2 separate regions of the Homo sapiens genome follow, and region 1 is linked to region 2. The links come from fine-mapping of genetic effects on gene expression. A gene starts in region 2. The other region holds a variant in brackets. All regions are shown on one strand. Distances are from middle to middle. Region 1 overlaps ZMIZ1 (zinc finger MIZ-type containing 1). Region 2 holds the start of PPIF (peptidylprolyl isomerase F).

Evidence for each region.
Region 1: its variant is fine-mapped to the expression of PPIF in whole blood (TOPMed, PIP 0.90).

What each region holds. Positions count from the first base shown.
Region 1 is chr10:79,311,439-79,319,759 of GRCh38, reverse strand. It overlaps ZMIZ1 (zinc finger MIZ-type containing 1), which reads right to left. Exons shown (of 25, transcript NM_020338.4): 25 at 3,241-7,118. The coding sequence ends at 7,011. Among named protein-coding and RNA genes, the nearest start is that of PPIF, 32 kb to the left of the region's middle. RefSeq lists enhancers at 852-1,427, 2,017-2,076, 6,223-6,722, 7,480-7,980 and cis regulatory regions at 1,445-1,945, 1,567-2,067, 1,585-2,085, 1,644-2,144, 1,555-2,157 and 5 more. The variant C/T (reference allele first, on the strand shown) is at 4,010.
Region 2 is chr10:79,343,195-79,351,515 of GRCh38, reverse strand. PPIF (peptidylprolyl isomerase F) reads right to left here and starts at 4,047. Exons shown (of 6, transcript NM_005729.4): 1 at 3,773-4,047; 2 at 2,410-2,440; 3 at 1,763-1,851; 4 at 1-29. The coding sequence starts at 3,967. RefSeq lists an enhancer at 1,799-2,299, cis regulatory regions at 3,066-3,566, 3,249-3,749, 3,278-3,778, 3,781-4,303, 3,771-4,303 and 5 more and silencers at 3,614-3,843, 3,864-4,273.

The sequences.
Region 1 (8,321 bases), 32 kb after region 2:
TAAAGTCTAGCCCTGACCTGACCCACAGGGAGGATTTGAGAGCACTGATCATGCCCCAGCCAAGAGGCCTTTTATTCCTTGTGGCAGTCAATTTTGGCTGTGCGCTGCCTGGCAGGGGTGCATGTGTGGGGATAGGGGGCAGGTAACCTGTCAGGCATGGAGGTTTCTGTGAGCTGAGGGAAATTCTCTGATAAAGGGGCACGTTCTGGGCTGTTGGCGGCCAACACCCGTAGCAGCGGCAGGATGGGTGGGCCAGTCGGTGAAGAAGATCCTGATGAAGCACCACAAGTACCTAGTTACCATAGGAACCTGCGGAGAAGACAAGGAAGGCACAGAGGGATGCCAGGAAAACTAAACAGATGAAAGAGGAAGTTGTCATGGATTCAAGTGTCTTCATCTCTTTTCTGTTGCTCTAACAGAATACTCGAGACTGAGTAATTTATAAAGAAAAGCAGTTTATTTAGCTCATGCTTCTGGAGGCTGGGAAGTTCAAGATTGGGTGGCTGCATCTGGTGAGGGCCTCATGATGCATTGTAGTATGGCAGAAGGCATCATGTGGCGAGGAGGGCAAGCGCGTGCCAAGTTGGCTTTTATAAGAGACCTACTCCCATGATAACCCATGAATCTGCCAACTCATTAATCCATCAATCCATTCATGAAGGCAGAGCCCTTATGACCCAAGGGCCTGCCTCTTAGTACTGTTACACCGGGGATTAAGTTTCACCATGAGTTGTGGTGGGGGGGACAAGCATTCAAACCATAGCACCAAGAGAAGAGAGCTTCAAGGAAGAAATGGCAACTGTCAAGTGCAGCTGTGAGGTCCAGTCTCAGAAAGCAGCGTGGATCAGCAACGAAGAGGCCATTGGTGAGCTTGCAGGAGAAGTGTCAGAGAACTGGTGGGGCATGAACCAGGCATATGAAGGGTGACAGAGAAAGAGAGTGGGCACTGGCAGTTTTGTGGCTGAGAAGCCTGCATGGGAAGGAGCAGAGACTGGCCATCAAGGGGTGGAGCCCAGACCAAGCTGAACCTTGCAATGCCAGAGCCTGGGCCACTAAACCCGGGGAGGCGGGAGGCAGAGGTATGGGGAGGGTTAACGGGCTGATAGAATGAGACTCCTTGGAGAAGAGAAAGGGGTGATGGTGTCAGGGGCTGGGGGAGGGGTAGCCCCAACTGGGGAAGGGACACCACATCCTCTGGGCCTGGGTGGAAAAAGATATGGCCAGGGTGGATGGAGATAGGTCTGTGGGTAGCAGCAGGGACAGTGGGGAGCTGGGTGAGGGTAGGGTAGCCTGCTTAGAGCGAGGTGGGCGTGGTTAGCAGGAGGCTGGAGCAGAGGAGAAGGGAAATGGGGGGCCATTAAACATTGAGTGCCCTTAGCATTCAGGGAGGCTGGAGACCCCAGTGTATCCTGACATCGACCTGTGGGGCTGAATGAATTTCCCCAATAGCATCCCATGGCCTTACATGAAGACAGTCAGTGGATTCAGGGTGGAGACTTTTTGCAGTGGGCTAGAGGAAGAAGAGACGTAAGATGATCCACAGTGTGTGGCCCCACATGCTGGGAGGCTGAACTCTGAACTGTCCCAAGCCAGGGCCCCCACTGGGCTTTTTAGGTGGATGTTTCTGGTCCAGGGGTTAGGCTCACAGAAGGAAGTCACCCGTCTGGGGAGGAGTTAGCTGAGATGGGGCCGGCCAGTCTCCATACAGCCTTGTGGGGCAGCCACAGGCCTGTATCCCAGGTTCAGAGTCTCCAGCTGAAATGCCAGGAAGGTTTGCTTATTATCATGAAGTTGGGGGAGCACACTGCCCTTCCTCCCTCCCTGCTCCCCTGCCCACTTCCTGCCTTTAAGTCAATGGCATTCAAACTTTTTGTTTTCAACCACAACCCACAAATAAGAATTAACATCATGACTCAGCAGACACACACACACACACACACACACACACACACACACACACACACGTTTCTTGATAGAATGCTACCCTTTACTTTGTAGGGCACACTCCTGATATTTTCTACTGTATTCTCATTTGTTTTATTAAAGTGCTGGTCCAGCCCCACCACACTGCTCTAAGGCACAGGGAGGGGGGCATGTCTCCTACGGGAAGTTCTCCCTCAAGCTAACTAATCACCCTCCTCTCGGAGGGGTGTCTGTTCAGAGAGAGTCAGCCTGTCCTGGTGATGCTGGCAGAAGGCAGTGCCTGCAGCTGAGCAGTGGCCGGTGGGTGTTCCATTATTTAAGGTAAATCTTTTCTCCTCCTCACCTTCCACCTCCCTCCAAAAGGAGAAACTCCAGCCACCTCGGAGAGGCCCCAGGAGCAGGGGGCTTCTAGGCACCCAGCCCCCTACAGGCAGCACCCTGCAGCCTCCCCCACACCGCCGGCTCCTGCACACACATGCCCCTCACTCTCCTGACACCCGGATACATCTGAGTGGAGATCTCTGGGGTGCCGGCCCGGCCCTTCTTCCCTCTGTGGACAGTCCCTGTGGAGGAAAGGCCATGACAGCCACATTTGCTTTCCCCCTAAGGTGAGGCTGCGTGGAGGGAGGGCAGGGACTGGCTGCGGGGCTGTGTCAGATGCATGTTCCTAAAACTTCAATCGGAGACACATCAAGTGTTGTCAGTTTGTGTTGGTGCCGAGGCTGGAAGGATGGTTAGAACCATGGCCTGGGCAGGGGCTATCGTGAGACAGTACCCCATGTAAAGCATGCTCACGGAGGAGGGAAAACCCAAGCTTCCCTAGGAGGGGAGGGGCAGGTGTACCGAGAGGTGGAGGCCAGGGATGCTGAGATGCCAGCAGGGAGCCATGGGTGCAGTGAATGCTCACTCTCCATTGAAGCCACACTCCTGTGTGCTCTGAACAGCACCCTCTGTGGCTTAATATGAATAGCTTCCTGCTACTTAAACCCAGCATAATCCACAAGGGACCATCAAAGATGGGACACTGTTGCACACTCTGAGTCACATGCCACAGGGGCCCCTAGCACCCTGCAGCCACCTGGCCCTATTCAGCCACCCCAACTCCCCCAACCATCCGGCCACACACTGCACTTGCCCCACCAGGGACTGGTTCCAGGGACCCCCATGGACAGGGGTTCTTCCAATTCAACACCCAAACCACCTGCCTTTCTTTTTTGTGTGTGCAGAGGGTAACAGGGCGGGGGGTGTGGTTTAAAACAAAAGCAAAAACACCCAAACCACTCCTTAACATCCACAAAATAGCTAATTCGCCAAACCTTTGTTTTTGTCAATTTATTTAGAAAAAAATTAACATGGGCAAATGAGATACCTCAGTGTTACAACAGAGTATAGAAATGTCTAGCAATAGTCAAATAATTTGATCTTTAAATACAAAATAACCACATGAACACCTAATATACAGGTTTCATCTGAATACATATTTATTAGATAAATATTAGAGGTTGTCACATCATCTAACTACATACAGCTTTGCAAGACTAGAAATCACAATTAGTTTTTTGACCAGTTTAAAGTATGAAATGATTGCATTGTACATACGATGTACAAAGACGATGATGGTTTCTGTGGGAGTTACTTCAGGCTGCACTGGTGGGTGTGTTTATGTGTGTACGTGTGAATCACCTGTGATCATGATATCAAAAATTATACAAAGTATGAATTTGGTTACAATTTTCTTCTGAAATCCCCGTTTCTTTTCATTATTTCCATAGCACCCTAAAAATACACAGGTGGCAGGACTAGTACACTGAAGCTAAATAGTACATGTAGGTAAAATAAAAACAGAACAAAAACCCCTTTCCACTCAGGGTCAGAGTATATTACATGAGCGAGAGAGACAGACGTGGAGAACTCACAAATGCTATAACCAACAGGATCTAGTTTTTCCACGTGATGGAGTTCCAAGCTTTTTTTTTTGTTTTGTTTTGTTTCGCAAAATAAAAACAATACACATTCCAAGAGAAATGAATGCATCTGTTGACACGTCTCTATTTCTCATTTACATATGTACACACGTCCCTTGAGT[C/T]GCTGCTGTTGACACGGCCCTGTGTGGACGGGTCAGGCCCGAGGCCCGTCGGGAGCAGACCTGTAGCTCTCTGGGGGATCAGGGCTTCCATTAGGGAGAAAGTATTAGCAGTTTCTTAAAAAATAAAATGGCTACACGGAACATGATACATGGATAAAGCTTCAAACCAAGAAGATGGGGGTGATTGCCTGTACTTGGCCCTTCCCGCCTGCCTGCTGGCTCCCTGTCCATCTTGCGGAGTGGCGGCAGAAACATGCCTGTGGGCCGGGTGGATGCTTGGCATGGAAAAGTGGCTTGCAGAGGCCTCGTTTTTGCTGAGGTTACTTATGGCTCCAAGTAGTCGTCCGAAAGGATCAGGGAAGGATCTCTCCAGAGTTCAGGACCATCTCTGTTTATGGGCGTTGTCTACCTGCACCTGTCACAACCTGGGGCTTGCTCCCGCCCCGGATGCCTCTGCACCTCCCTCACACCCTGGCCTGGCTCCCAGAGCACTCCGGAAGAGCTTGTCTCCAGACTGCAGGCTGTAGGCACCACGCACGGTTCAGAGCCAGCCGGAAGGGAAGCTCTGGGCCGAGCTTGCTGGTGGAGGCTTGCTGGAGAGGGGACCCAGGAAACCCGCCTCAGGTGCTGAGCCCAGAGATGGTTGCAGGAGGTGCCCGGGGCCTGGGCTGCAGGGAGCATCTCGACTCTCCGCACTGGAAAGCCGTGGATCCACCTGTGAGCAGAGTGTGGACACACCCTGATAAGAACCAGAATGAATCCCAGGCCTTTCTGGGGCAAAGTATCAACGCAAGAAGCAAGAACTCCTAAGGAAGGCATCTGTAAGTCTGTCTGGAGCTTAATTCCCAGATGGTCTGACACAGGGCGTGGCCACTTGCCAGGCCACAGACACTGGGCAAGGGTGGCCACATGCTACCTGGCGTTGGCTTGTCCCTGCCAGCTGACTGAGGGATGGCTCTAAATAGCGGGCTGCCCGGTCTTCCAACTCCCAGCACAGCCGCCCATTCTGTTCACCCCTTCAACTGTACAAATAGCCCTGGTTGCTTTTTTTGTTTTTGTTTAAAAAAAAAGAAGACTCGGTCTTTGTCATTGAGTCCAGGTATTTTAAAAACACCAGCAAAGGCTATAACCAGGTCATGAAAATGTTGAATATTATCAAAGACGATACTAAAATATTCACAAAGATATTTACAAAAGCGATTCTTAAAATAATTGATTTGCATACTGAACAACACGCTATTTGAAAAAACCTCGACAACGGGACAAAGGAAGAAAAGGGGCCGGGGCAATGGCAGCTTTCCTACAGAAAACCTTGTGCCGTCTGGGACAGTGACTGGAAGTCAACAGCTGGGGCCACCTTTCCGGTAAAACCCACAGAGGAGAGCTGGGGACCACCCACAGCGGACGGGAGAGCAGGAAAGGGCCCCAGGCAGCAGCCGGGAAGGGCGCAAAGAATTTACAGATGGGACCCCAGTGACGGGACAACCTGGCATCACCCTAGGCCATGTGGCTCACGGGGCACAGACCAGCCTGAAACAAAGTGAACACAGGACAGGCTCCCCAGGAGGCCCTGGAGAGTGGTAAGCCAGATGGAGCAAAGCGGTGGAGGGAAGGCCAGAGGCTGCTTTTGCTTGAGTGAGCAGGAGTTTGGGTGAGATTGTGATGGTGGAGGAGTGCAGGCAGGGTAGGCTGGCAGCCAAGGGCAGTGTCTGGGGCAGGCCCAGAAACACGCCCCCCTCCCCCCCATGCCTGCAGGTACATACTGGTGCACATGTCCATGGCCTGGGCTGCAGCCGGGGGCAGCTTGGAGCACAGGGACAGAGGGAGGGGCTGGACAGACACCATTGCCCTGGGCTCTGGTTTCTGCACCTCCCCGGCCTTTCCACGCACTGCCCTTGCCATCTGATTGGACAAAGAGAACTAGGACAGAGGGAAGTGGGTGTCCCACGGAAGTCTTGGAGAGGTGGCAGGAGAGGGACTAGGAGAAAAACAGAACAGACGGAGAGAAATGGTTTGCTTGCTGTCCAAGAGCAACGTTCCTTTTCTCCAGGTGACTTCATAGCTTTAAATTGTTGCTGTTTAAAAAGAGAGTGGCTTGGAGCAAAGTTAGAAGTTGCCGCTCCTGTTTGCTTCTGACAGGTTATATGCCCGCGCCCCCCAACCAAGGGCACAATCACTTTGGTTGGGTGTACACCTGCTCTCTCTGTTCCCCAAGCCTGGGCCCTGTCTGAGCTTGGAGGTGGAGCCTCAGGGACGTCCTGGCTCAGAAGATGTCCTGGCCCTCTTCCCCACCAGTCCCCAAGCAGGAATGGCAGACCCCCTCTCAAACACAGACTCTTGTCCTTTTTCTCTGCTTTCTGAGTGTGTTTATGGGGTATCTTGGCTTATAGGTCAGGGGTCAAACCGATGACCCCTGGCCCCCGAGAGACGTTGTCTTTCCCAGAGGTTTGTGCTTTTCTGTGGTGGGTGGTGGTGGGTGGGCTGGTCTCACTGCCACCAACTGCCAGTGCTCCTCCAAGGCTCGGGGCCCATGCTGGGGCCCGGGGGCCTTCTCAGGCTCCACAGTCACTGGAGGGAGGCTCTGGACCAGGAAGCAGGGAGGCAGGGTTACAGTCTAGAAGATGGAAGAACCTTGGGGACACTGGAAGGTCATCTGGAATCGGCACACGCGGAGGGACCGGGAAGCCGCATCAGCGTGTGCCCTCTTACCGGGCTGGTTCCTCTCGGGAGGGTGGTCTTCAGGCCTGCGCTGGGCATGGGCCCAAGCCAAGGGTGTGGAGGTGGGACGTGGGCTCCAGACCCACACAGCCTTCCTGGTGCACTGGTGCACCCTCCCTACCCCTCTGTTCTGAGAGGGCTGCAGCGGGGGAGGGCTCCCCGCCCCACAGCCCGTGGCTCTGGTGCGGGGCGGTCTGAGGGCACAGGCTCCCAGGTGGAAAAGTGTGTTGGGTAGGTGGGGTAGGATGCAGAGTGTGGAGGGATGGCCCCGACCGGGTGGCCCTCAGTTGTTCTCAAATAGAGACAGGAGGTCATCGTTACTATTGCTCGGCAGGTCGGGGGGGTCCAGATAAGACAGGAGCTCGTCAGGATTTGTGAGTTCGGGAAGGAGCTGGAAAAGAAGGAGTAATGAAGTTCAGATGAGGTGTGCCTGAGAGGCAGGCCCCGGGTGAGGAATGCAGGGGCGCCCTGGCCCGTCCCCCTCCACCTGCCTCTCAGGACCCTAGCCAAAAAAAGGGGTAGAGAACAGCCTTGGGCTTGGGCCTGCCAGGTATCCCCACACATACCCCGGCCACTGCACCGAGTGTGGGGCACCCCCATGCTCATTTCAAGCCTCAGGATTGGGACCCGCAGCCCACCAGCTGAGGCCTGAGCAGGGCTGACCCTTTTCAGGCATGGACTTCAGCCCTAACCTGGGAAGGCCCCATGGCAGGTCACTTGGGCCTCCCAGCTGAAATCACATGCTTCACGTGTAAGCACAAGGAGGTGGGCTGGTGGGAAGGCGGGAAGGCGAGTGGTTCCTGCACCGCCCCCAACCCCCCAACATCCCTCTTCTCAAGGGCTCGCCACTCCTTGGTGAGCCTGTGGCTGGCTGGCAGCCATCCTTCCCTGTGGCCCCGGAGGGGATGCAGACTGTCTCTACCCTCTACTGAGATATCCTTGGAGTCTGTCACATGGGGAGCCTCATGCATCTAAAAGCAGCCCCACTGGCCTGGTTTGAGGGGGAACACTGGGCAAGGACCTGAGATGGCTGCACAGTGAGTGAGTCCTAGCTAGCACAGAGCTCCTCTGATGCTGCAGGGCAGAGGCTGACAGAGCAGGGCTGGGGGTGAAGAACAGGAGGGGCCGAGGACAAGCCTCCTCCCGGAGTCTGGCACCAGCTCTGTGTAGGCATGGGCGGGGCCGGTGCTCAGTCCCATCCCGCCAGCCCCATCCAGCAGCCCAGCCCCATCATCCAGGGTGACCCCCACCATCTTCCAGACCTCAGGGTAGGAGCCCTGGCACCTCTGCTGCCCATGATGGCCTGCTGCCCCTGGCTGTGACCCAAGGCTGCCCCCTCTGCCCCCACCTTCTGTCACCCACATGGGGGCCTCTTGGAGTGAGCGATGGAGCAAGCAGAAGCAGGGCATGGACAACACGCGGACAAGAAAACTGGAGACAGACACACACCAGCGAGGCAGACAGACGGCCTCTCCCTCCAGCCCTCCCTGCCCGGGCCAGAGAGGCAGACACAGAAACCGCAAGCTCACCATCGGGGGAGGGCAGGGACCCTCCTGTGCTGCGCAAGGGACCCCGCAGGGCTTGGGTCAGAAGG
Region 2 (8,321 bases):
GTGCCATTGTGGTTGGTGAAGTCGCCCGCCTGTGAGCACAAAGCACCTTCTGAGTGGCTACCATGGAGCAGGCGGGGGCCACGGCCCTGGCGCTGGCAGCAGCCTCAGCCCACCCAAGCCCACCCAGTTGGCGCCCCTCAGGTAAAGGGGTCAATAAACATCCAATAAAATAAGAGCTAATAATAAGAATAATAAGCAAAAAAAAAAAAGACAAAACTTAAATATCTTTTGTCACCGTAACTACCTTTGTTTCCAAATGACTTACTTTTTGTCTGAGCAAATTTTTAAGTAATCTTCAAAAGACCTAAAGGCCATTCTGAGATGATACTTAGTGACCCAGAATTTAACCCACTCCTCCTGGAGGGCAACAAGGAAGAGGCCAGAGGCCCCCCAGTTCCCGAGTCTAGTCTGTGGGAGTACCAGCAGCTGGTCCAGACCAGCTCCCCAGGCCGAGTCCCCTCACTGTCCGCGCACTGCCCCTTACCCAGCCCAGCAGCTTTCCCAACCCTTGCAGACCCAGGACAGAGTCTGCCCAAGGCTGACATCTTTCCTCAGGCCTCAGCTAAGGCCCAGGCAGCCGTGGCCAAACCTGCATGGGGCACCCATGGCCAGAAGAGCCTGGTAGCAGCCCCTATGCCTAGCGCTGCCCAGCCCAGGCCATGGCTGGCTGCTGTTTTCCTGAGATGGGATCCGTGGGTAAGAGAGGGGAACTGACCAGCCCAGCTGAAGCATCCACAGGTGTCAATTAGGTGCTCCCTAATTGATATCCCTCCCAACGGATGACTCAGGACTCTGGTCTGGACTCCCGGTGCCACCGCCTTGTGCCAGGGAGCCCTCCCGCGCTGGAGTTCCCACCCTGGCTCAGGACTTCCACCTCAGCTCCTACTTTACCATCAGCCTTAGGGCTGGGCCAGGCCTGCCGTCCCTGTGTTCACCCCGTATCCAGGCTTCGCCGCACATAGACGTCCAGTCCCAACCCGCTGCCACTTACCACGGTACGATGACGGCCACTGGGTCAGGGTGGAGGGAATGGGGAGAGAATTCCAGGCAGGAAGGTCTTCAAAGAGGTCATGACAGCCATGCCCCTGCCTCCAGGCTCTGCCTGCCCAGGACACCCAATCCCTGATCTTGAAGGTCTGTGCTAATAGAAGACCAGCCCCAACACCACCTGGGTCCTGACCCACAGGAAGCTCCTGCTACAACACCTACCCCCAAACCTCTGACACAGCAATACCAATGCTTGTGAAAACTGAGCATGACACATGACCGAAAAACATTCATTTCACCGAGAATAATGCCTTTCTCTGGGAAGGGAAGCCCCAAGTCCTGGCGTGTGTGTTCCTGCCCTGGACCTGTCTTCCTCCTCCGCCTCCTCCACTTCTCTCTCTCCCTCTCTTATCTCCCACACCAGTGCTCAGGGGCACACAGGGGACAAGGTCAGAGACCACTGGAATATGCTGGCTCTTCAAAGTCTTCAAGGCCACCCCCAGCACATCCATCTCCCAACCCAGCTCTCTCTTGATAGACTCCACCTCCCAGTCCCCCGGGCAGGGCCTGCCACTGACCTGGAGTGGCAGCGGGTTGGGGCTGGGCTTCCATGTGCAGTGAAGCCTGGATACAGGGCTAATGCAGGGAGGGCAGCCTGGCTGACAGAGCAACTGCAGCTGCTCTGCTCAGCACCTTCCTCATACCAGGCATCTTCACACACCCACAAGGCAGCTCCTGCTCTCATCCCCCCTTACAGAAGAGGAAACTACATTACCTGGCACATGAAGGAAGGGATCACCCTGTGGAAGGTGGAGCCTTTGTAGCCGAAGCCCTTCTCACCAGTGCACAGGGCTCTGAAGTTCTCTGAGGGTCGAAGAGAAACACAGGTCAACAGGGCCAGGCCCCAATTCCAGGGTCATACCCGTTCCAGCCAAAATCCCTGCTACATCCCCAGCAGTGAACAGGGGGATAAAGACTCTGGCCCACCTCTTGGGTCTGCTCTGCCCAACTCGCTATGTAACTGGACAAGTCACTCCCCTTCCCTGTCCTCAGTACCTGAGCACTGTGACAAGAGTACAGGCTCATGGCTGTGCTGGCCAGCAGGGCACGGACTCAAGGGCTGTGTGCCCATCACCCTGCCTCACTGGGCACCAGGAGTGGGGAAGTCTCCGGGAAATTTACATGTGCCTTCCACTGGCTCTGAGGCTCCCAGCTACTATGAGAGAGGAGGGCAGAGCCAACGTTGAGGCCCAGAGAGGGATGGCAGGGCTGCCCCAGAGCACCCAATGGCTGAGCCACACATGGAGCTCCCATCTGTCAGGGGTCTCTGAGCCCCGACTCTTCTCATCACGCCACCCACCTTGCCCTGCCTGGCCCCCTTCCCTCTAGACCCATCTCAGAAGGCCCCAGGCCCTGTCTTACCAGCTGTCTTTGGGACGACATCTGCCTTCAGCTGTTGGGGGAGAAGAAGGACAAAAGAGGATGGTCATTGGAGAGGCAGGTGAAGGTGGGTGTCTCTCAGCACCCACCCACCCCCACAGTGGCCAAGGAGGCTAAGGAAGAAGCACGTGGACATTCCATTCCCATTATTGCCAACCCCCATGGGAGGCAGCTCTATCATTTCTGGGAGCCGTTTCCTGAACCCAAGGCTGGAGGAGGTGGCCTTGGTTTCCTAATCTGTCAGAAGAGATGACAATGCTATCTTGGCCTACTTCTGTGGACACAGCTGGCAGTGCTCCCACAGCTGGGCCCAAAGCATCAGAAATTCAGGGACAAGAGAGTGTGTCTAAGGTAGAAGCCAGACCAGCTCCTCCATTCGGGGTTGGGAAACTGAGGCCCAGGGAGAGGCATGAGGGTGTGGGGAGGGAAGGCTGAAGCCCCATCCCAGCCAGCCTCTACCCTCGAAGCTGCAAGACCCACCCTGGAACCAAATGGAAGCAGGAAGGGTGTCCCTATTTTCCAGAAGAAACTGAGAATGAAGAAGAAATACTAAGGGCTCCCTGGGATACGGGCCAGTCAACACAAACAGACCCCTGCTGTCAATGTGTGGCCGACCTGAAGGCTCCACTAGGGCTTTCCCTCTAAAGCTACCCTGGTGACTGTTTCTTACTTTGCTTTAGAAAAGACCCAAAAACAGAGTTAGGGGAGGTGCTCAGTGTGGCCCCCAAGGACAGTGGCAGGGGTTGAGGCGCCGGGCACACTGTCTCTGAGTGTGTCCCGACTCGCAGGAGGGGCATTCTGGGGTCCACCAGGTGGCCGGGGCCTGAGGCCTACTGGGCCCGCACTACTGCTGGAAACCACCTCTCGCTCCATTTCCCAGCACCCCCAGTGTGAGCCCGACCGCAGGGGCGGGGCCGGAGCCAGGAAGCGCTCCGTGTTGTGCAAGGGCCGCCACGTGAGCACCCGCTGGGCCACGACGCTCACCCCAAGACCCCCGACACCCACCTCGGAGCTCCGGATCTAGGCTCAGCCCCAGAAGGCTCCTGGAGCCCCTCCCTCGTGCCCGGGCCGGCCCAGAGGTGCTGAGCCCTCCCTCTCTGCGATCTGACCTTGAGCTTTCTCCTCCACACGTGCCCTCCCTCCCGTCTCCCCCGCTCCAGTGCTCCGAGGGAGGCCGGAAGAAATCATTCTGACGCCCATTCTCAGAAATGGGGAAACTGAGGCCCAGAGCTCGGCATGGGGAGGCCCAAGGTCACCCAGCGCGCCCGGCACCGCGCCGCCCGGGGCCCAGGGCTCTCCCCGGGCCCGTGTCCCGCGCCCAGGCCGGCCCTGCGAGCGGTCTCACCTCCAGCACCACGCGGCCGAGCGGCTTCCCGTTGGCGTCCACGTCCAGGTACACGAGCGGGTTCCCGGAGGAGGAGGAAGAGGACGGGTCGCCGGAGCCCTTGCTGCAGGCGCGGGCCGCGGGGAGGCGCAGCGGCACGGAGCGCGGGACGGAGAGCAGGCCGAGCCAGCGGGAGCCGCAGCGCAGCGCCAGCATCGCGGGCGCGGGTCGGGCGGGACACGGGCGGGGAGAACACAGAACTCAAACTGACGTCGCGCGCGCCCAGAAGGCCGAGTCCCGCGCAGCCGCGCGCCGCAGCCTTTATTGGCTTGCCCAGGTTCCCGGCCCTGCCCCCGTCCCGCCTCCTCCAGGCCTGTCCGTGGACTACCCCTGCCGGCCGCAGCGGGCAGCGCAGCCAGCCGGTGGGGCCGCGGAGCGTGAAGTGCTTTGAAACACTCCCGCCTCCAGGCCCAGAGACCCGGAGAACAGACACCTGGCAAAAGGTTGCTGGTTCCATGTTTATTAAGGTACCAGCAGATTTTTTTAAAAAAAGAAAAACTGCTAAAACGTAATTAATTCCAAAATATGAGCATCTATACGTTGCAATTTGAATATAATAGCAAAAGTCTACCTTTGAGCCCTTTGCAGGTAAGGCTCAGGCCAAATAAGCTTCCCTGCTGCCCTAGGTCCTGCAGTCTGAGAGGGTTAGAGAAAGGTGAGATGAGAGGCGGGATTAGTGAGCTAGAGGCGCAAGAGGGAGGAGATAAGCTGAGACACCTCCCATGATGCCCCCTAGCCTGCTTGTCCCGGCCTGGGCCTGTCTCTAGTTGTTTCTGGGGACCAGACCTGCTTCTAGCAAGACTGAAAACGCAGCCTGGGCTCATCATGCTCCTTTCAGGCCCCCAGCCCTCCCCAGGACTGGGTCTGATCCCTCCTCCTAGGACCCACACTGACAGCCCCGGGGCAGACTGCCAGCTGCCCCCTCCCATCAGCATGCACCCTGGGAGGGGACTCAGTGGGGAGACCCACAGCAGGAGCATTTAAACCCCACGTGCTGAAAGTGGGCTTCCCAGCAGCCAGAGCCACCCTCACTGCAAGGTGGTGGGAGGTCTGCAATAAATGGATGCCACGCAGGGACCTGAGAGAGCATCTGGCCCAACACTTGTACTGTCCCCAGGGGAAGCTGAGGCCTGGACACAGGAAGGCACTGGCTAGGGCTAGGGAGCCCTGGAGTATTGCTACCAGCTTGCACCAGTGCTCCAGGCCTCTCTGGGCCTCAGTTTCCCATCTGGAGGGTAAGGGTGCGATCATGCTCCTCATCCTGCTTTTTTCTCGTGTCTGTTCTTAGGATAAAATGAACGAGAGAGACATGGATTTGTCAACTAAGTACTGTGCCTGTGGGCATCTGTGATGGACAGAGTCTGGACTGTCTTTCTCACAGTTTGGGATTCAGAGAGCTGCGGTCTCAGTTAGAGGCCTGAGGGGTCAGAGAAAGGGGTGGGGCTGAGCCTTGGAGGCAGGTGGGCAGGAGTAGGGACCAGCTCTGGACTGACCTGCCCCAGATCCTGAATGGGCTCATGGGAACAGGTCAGGCAGCAAAATGCCAGCCAAGCAAATTCATGAGGTCAGAGCAGTGCCCTAGCTTCATAAGAATGCTAGCTTGGCCTCTGGAAGTTTGGCTAGCTTGGCTTCTGGAAGTTCATAGCCCCCTTCTCCGATTCCTGGCCTAGGAGGGGCCTAGGCACCCAGTGAAGCCCAGGTGGGATGCATTCCAGGTCCCAGCCCAGAATGGGGCCTCACTCTGCCCTGGGGAGCAGCCCCTCCTTTCTTATGATTGTGCCCTGAGGTGAGCAGGCCTGAGTGGGGAGCCCACTTGAGCCCTCAGCACATGTCCCAGACCTTCCTCTACCAGTGCATCCTGTGGATTTGAGAGTGGAGGAATCACGCCATGTGCCTTGTCATGAAGCTTCCTTAAGGCCCCAGGCTTCCCTGCGGCCAGTTCCAGGCCCTGAGCTCACAGGACCTTCAGCCACAGCAGGTAGCTCAGCGTACCCTGTTGTTTCTCAAGCCTGCTCCTGGGGGGACTCAGTTTATGCCCCATCCTGATGAAGCATGAGCATCCCCACCCCAGGGGAGTGCTGCCTTCATTCACTTGACCACTTCAGTTCTCAGAACCCTTTCCCAGCTGTGAACTCTGCCTGAGAGACAGCTCTGTTTTGCAGATGGGGAAGCCAGGCCCCAGGGGCTGGGGAGTGAATTGCCCAAGGGCAGGCTGTTGGAACTGGGACCAGTCTGTCTGACTTCACAATCAGGGTTATTGCATGTCAAACCCTTCTCACTCTCACCACGAAGCTGGTCCTTGGGACAGGGTGGGGAGGCAAGAGAGATAAGCCTGGGCAGACAACACAGTAAGATAGAAACGGTGGAGTTGGCCAGGGGGCTATGGAGCTCAGGGACTAGGGAGATGGTTTTAATAGTGAGCATGAGCTGAAAGGCCTGTGGGGACCCAATCACAGAGGGCTCTGAAGGCCTGGCTGAGGTCTGACATTGTTGGATAGCACTGGGGAGCCATGAATAGTGCAAAGACTCCATGCTGAGGACTCTGGACTGGGAACCAGCTTCTTTCATTCATGTTACTCCTTCCACTCTCTTTGGAAAATCAAACGTCATCACTACCTCCTAAGCCAGAGAAAAGCCTACCTTCCCCAAAGGCTTAGCTATGATGTCATCCCTTCCTGTTCTGTTCTCAGTGGTATCAGGAAGAAGGATAGTCTATAGGCTAAGCCATGAGCTGAACACATGCCCAGCCCTTGAGGGCTCCGGGCCCAGGTGACATCAGGCAGGTGTTAGCACTCACCTGGCTCTGAGGCTATTTATAGACTGTGTTATCCTCAGAAACAGCAGTGTTTCTCTCCACTCAGCTCACATGGTTTTTTATCCAGGGTGCTGATGGGTTTTGTCACCTAGGGATCCTGTAACACCACCTCTAGGCCTCACAAAGCCAAAGAACAATCAGTTTGTGCTAAGCTCAGAATCTCATTCAGGGGTTGCAAACTCAGATGCCTGCGGGGGCCAGGCAGGTGATACACATGAGTGGTGCAAGCTGGTAAGTATGTAGGGAGTGAGGGGAGGTGGCACTGTATCCAGATAGCTAATGGATGTCCCAGGTAAAGAGGTAGCTGCTGCCCAGGCCAGCCAATTATTGTATATGGGACTATGGGTCCACACAGGCCACCCAGGTTTTCTCATCTTTCAATAAAAGCTGAAGACTTTAAGTTTTATAGAAATCTAGTTTTCAAATTTTTGAAATGAATTTCAAAATAAAATTAAACACCGAATGAACTGTAAACACCGTATCCAAACTAGATGAGGACTCTGGGCTGATAGTTTGTAAGCTCTGATTTCCACTGTACAGGTGAGAGGACTGAAGCTCAGAGAAGGATGGGGAGTGGCCCGAGGCCATACAGCTGGGCAGTACCAGGACTGTGGTCAGACCCTCTCTTCACTCTCCCCAGGGCCCTTTCTGCAAAGTTCACTCAGCAGACATGTTTTCAGAGCACCTACTGTGTTCTGAGCCCTGAGCTTCACCCTGGGGATTCAGAAGGACAAAGACAGGGACAGGAGGTTATGGTGTCCTGAGATGCTGGAACTGCTGAACAAACCTCTCCCAGGTAGCCCTGTGTGTGGCAGGAGTGAACGCTGTGGTTGTCGTGGGGTACAAAGTTACAGTTGTTCTGGAGAGACCCTCCAGGAGGGGCTGGGGGTGAAGGTAGCCCCGGTGTGGGCATGAGGTGGGGTTTCTATAATATTAAATATCATGAAGGCTGAGATCATTACCAGTGCCAGTCACTGGGTCATACAACCTGTGCTGCCAGCCTAGACAATGGTCCTTAGGTAGGATGAGGCCATGGACTTCATCTGTCTGGTTATGCTTGAGGGGTTTGGGGTCCAGGATAGCATCTGTCATGGGAAGGGAAACTGAGAGAGAGGTTCCCCGCGACTCAGAAAGCCACCAGACCCTTCTACTGGGTTGCTGTGGGACTCTCTGGGGATGGAGTGTCCCCCGTGGCCTTTGCAAAGTCAGTACATTCATCATCCTCTCTCTGCTGGCTTCTAAGAACCAGACCATGATGGGGAGGCAGAGGCAGAGAAGGGAGGTTCCACTAAGGCCCAGGGAGGTGGTGGGCACAGTGATCAGAGAGAGACCCACAAGGGGAAGATGGGGCGAAGCTCTCCTCTGGAGTCCAGCTGGTCTTTTACTCGTGTGATCTGGATCACTGCGGGCCACTGAGAGCGGAGCCAGTGTGGTAGGGTGGAGCTCAGTAGGGTGTGGCTCACCCTCAGCTGCTGGGCTCTCACACAACCTGCCTGGCCACAGCCCCCTGCAACTCACAACTCAGCAGAGCTTGCCTTCTGGGAGTATCTGCAAGATAATCCATGTTTGTTGTTTGAAGCCACTAAGTGTTGGGTCATTTGCCATGTGCAGTGGATAACTCATACCCATAGTACCCCACCCCAGCCAGGACTCCTGGAAGATCCCATTGCTCCATGCACAGCCAGTCCTGGATCT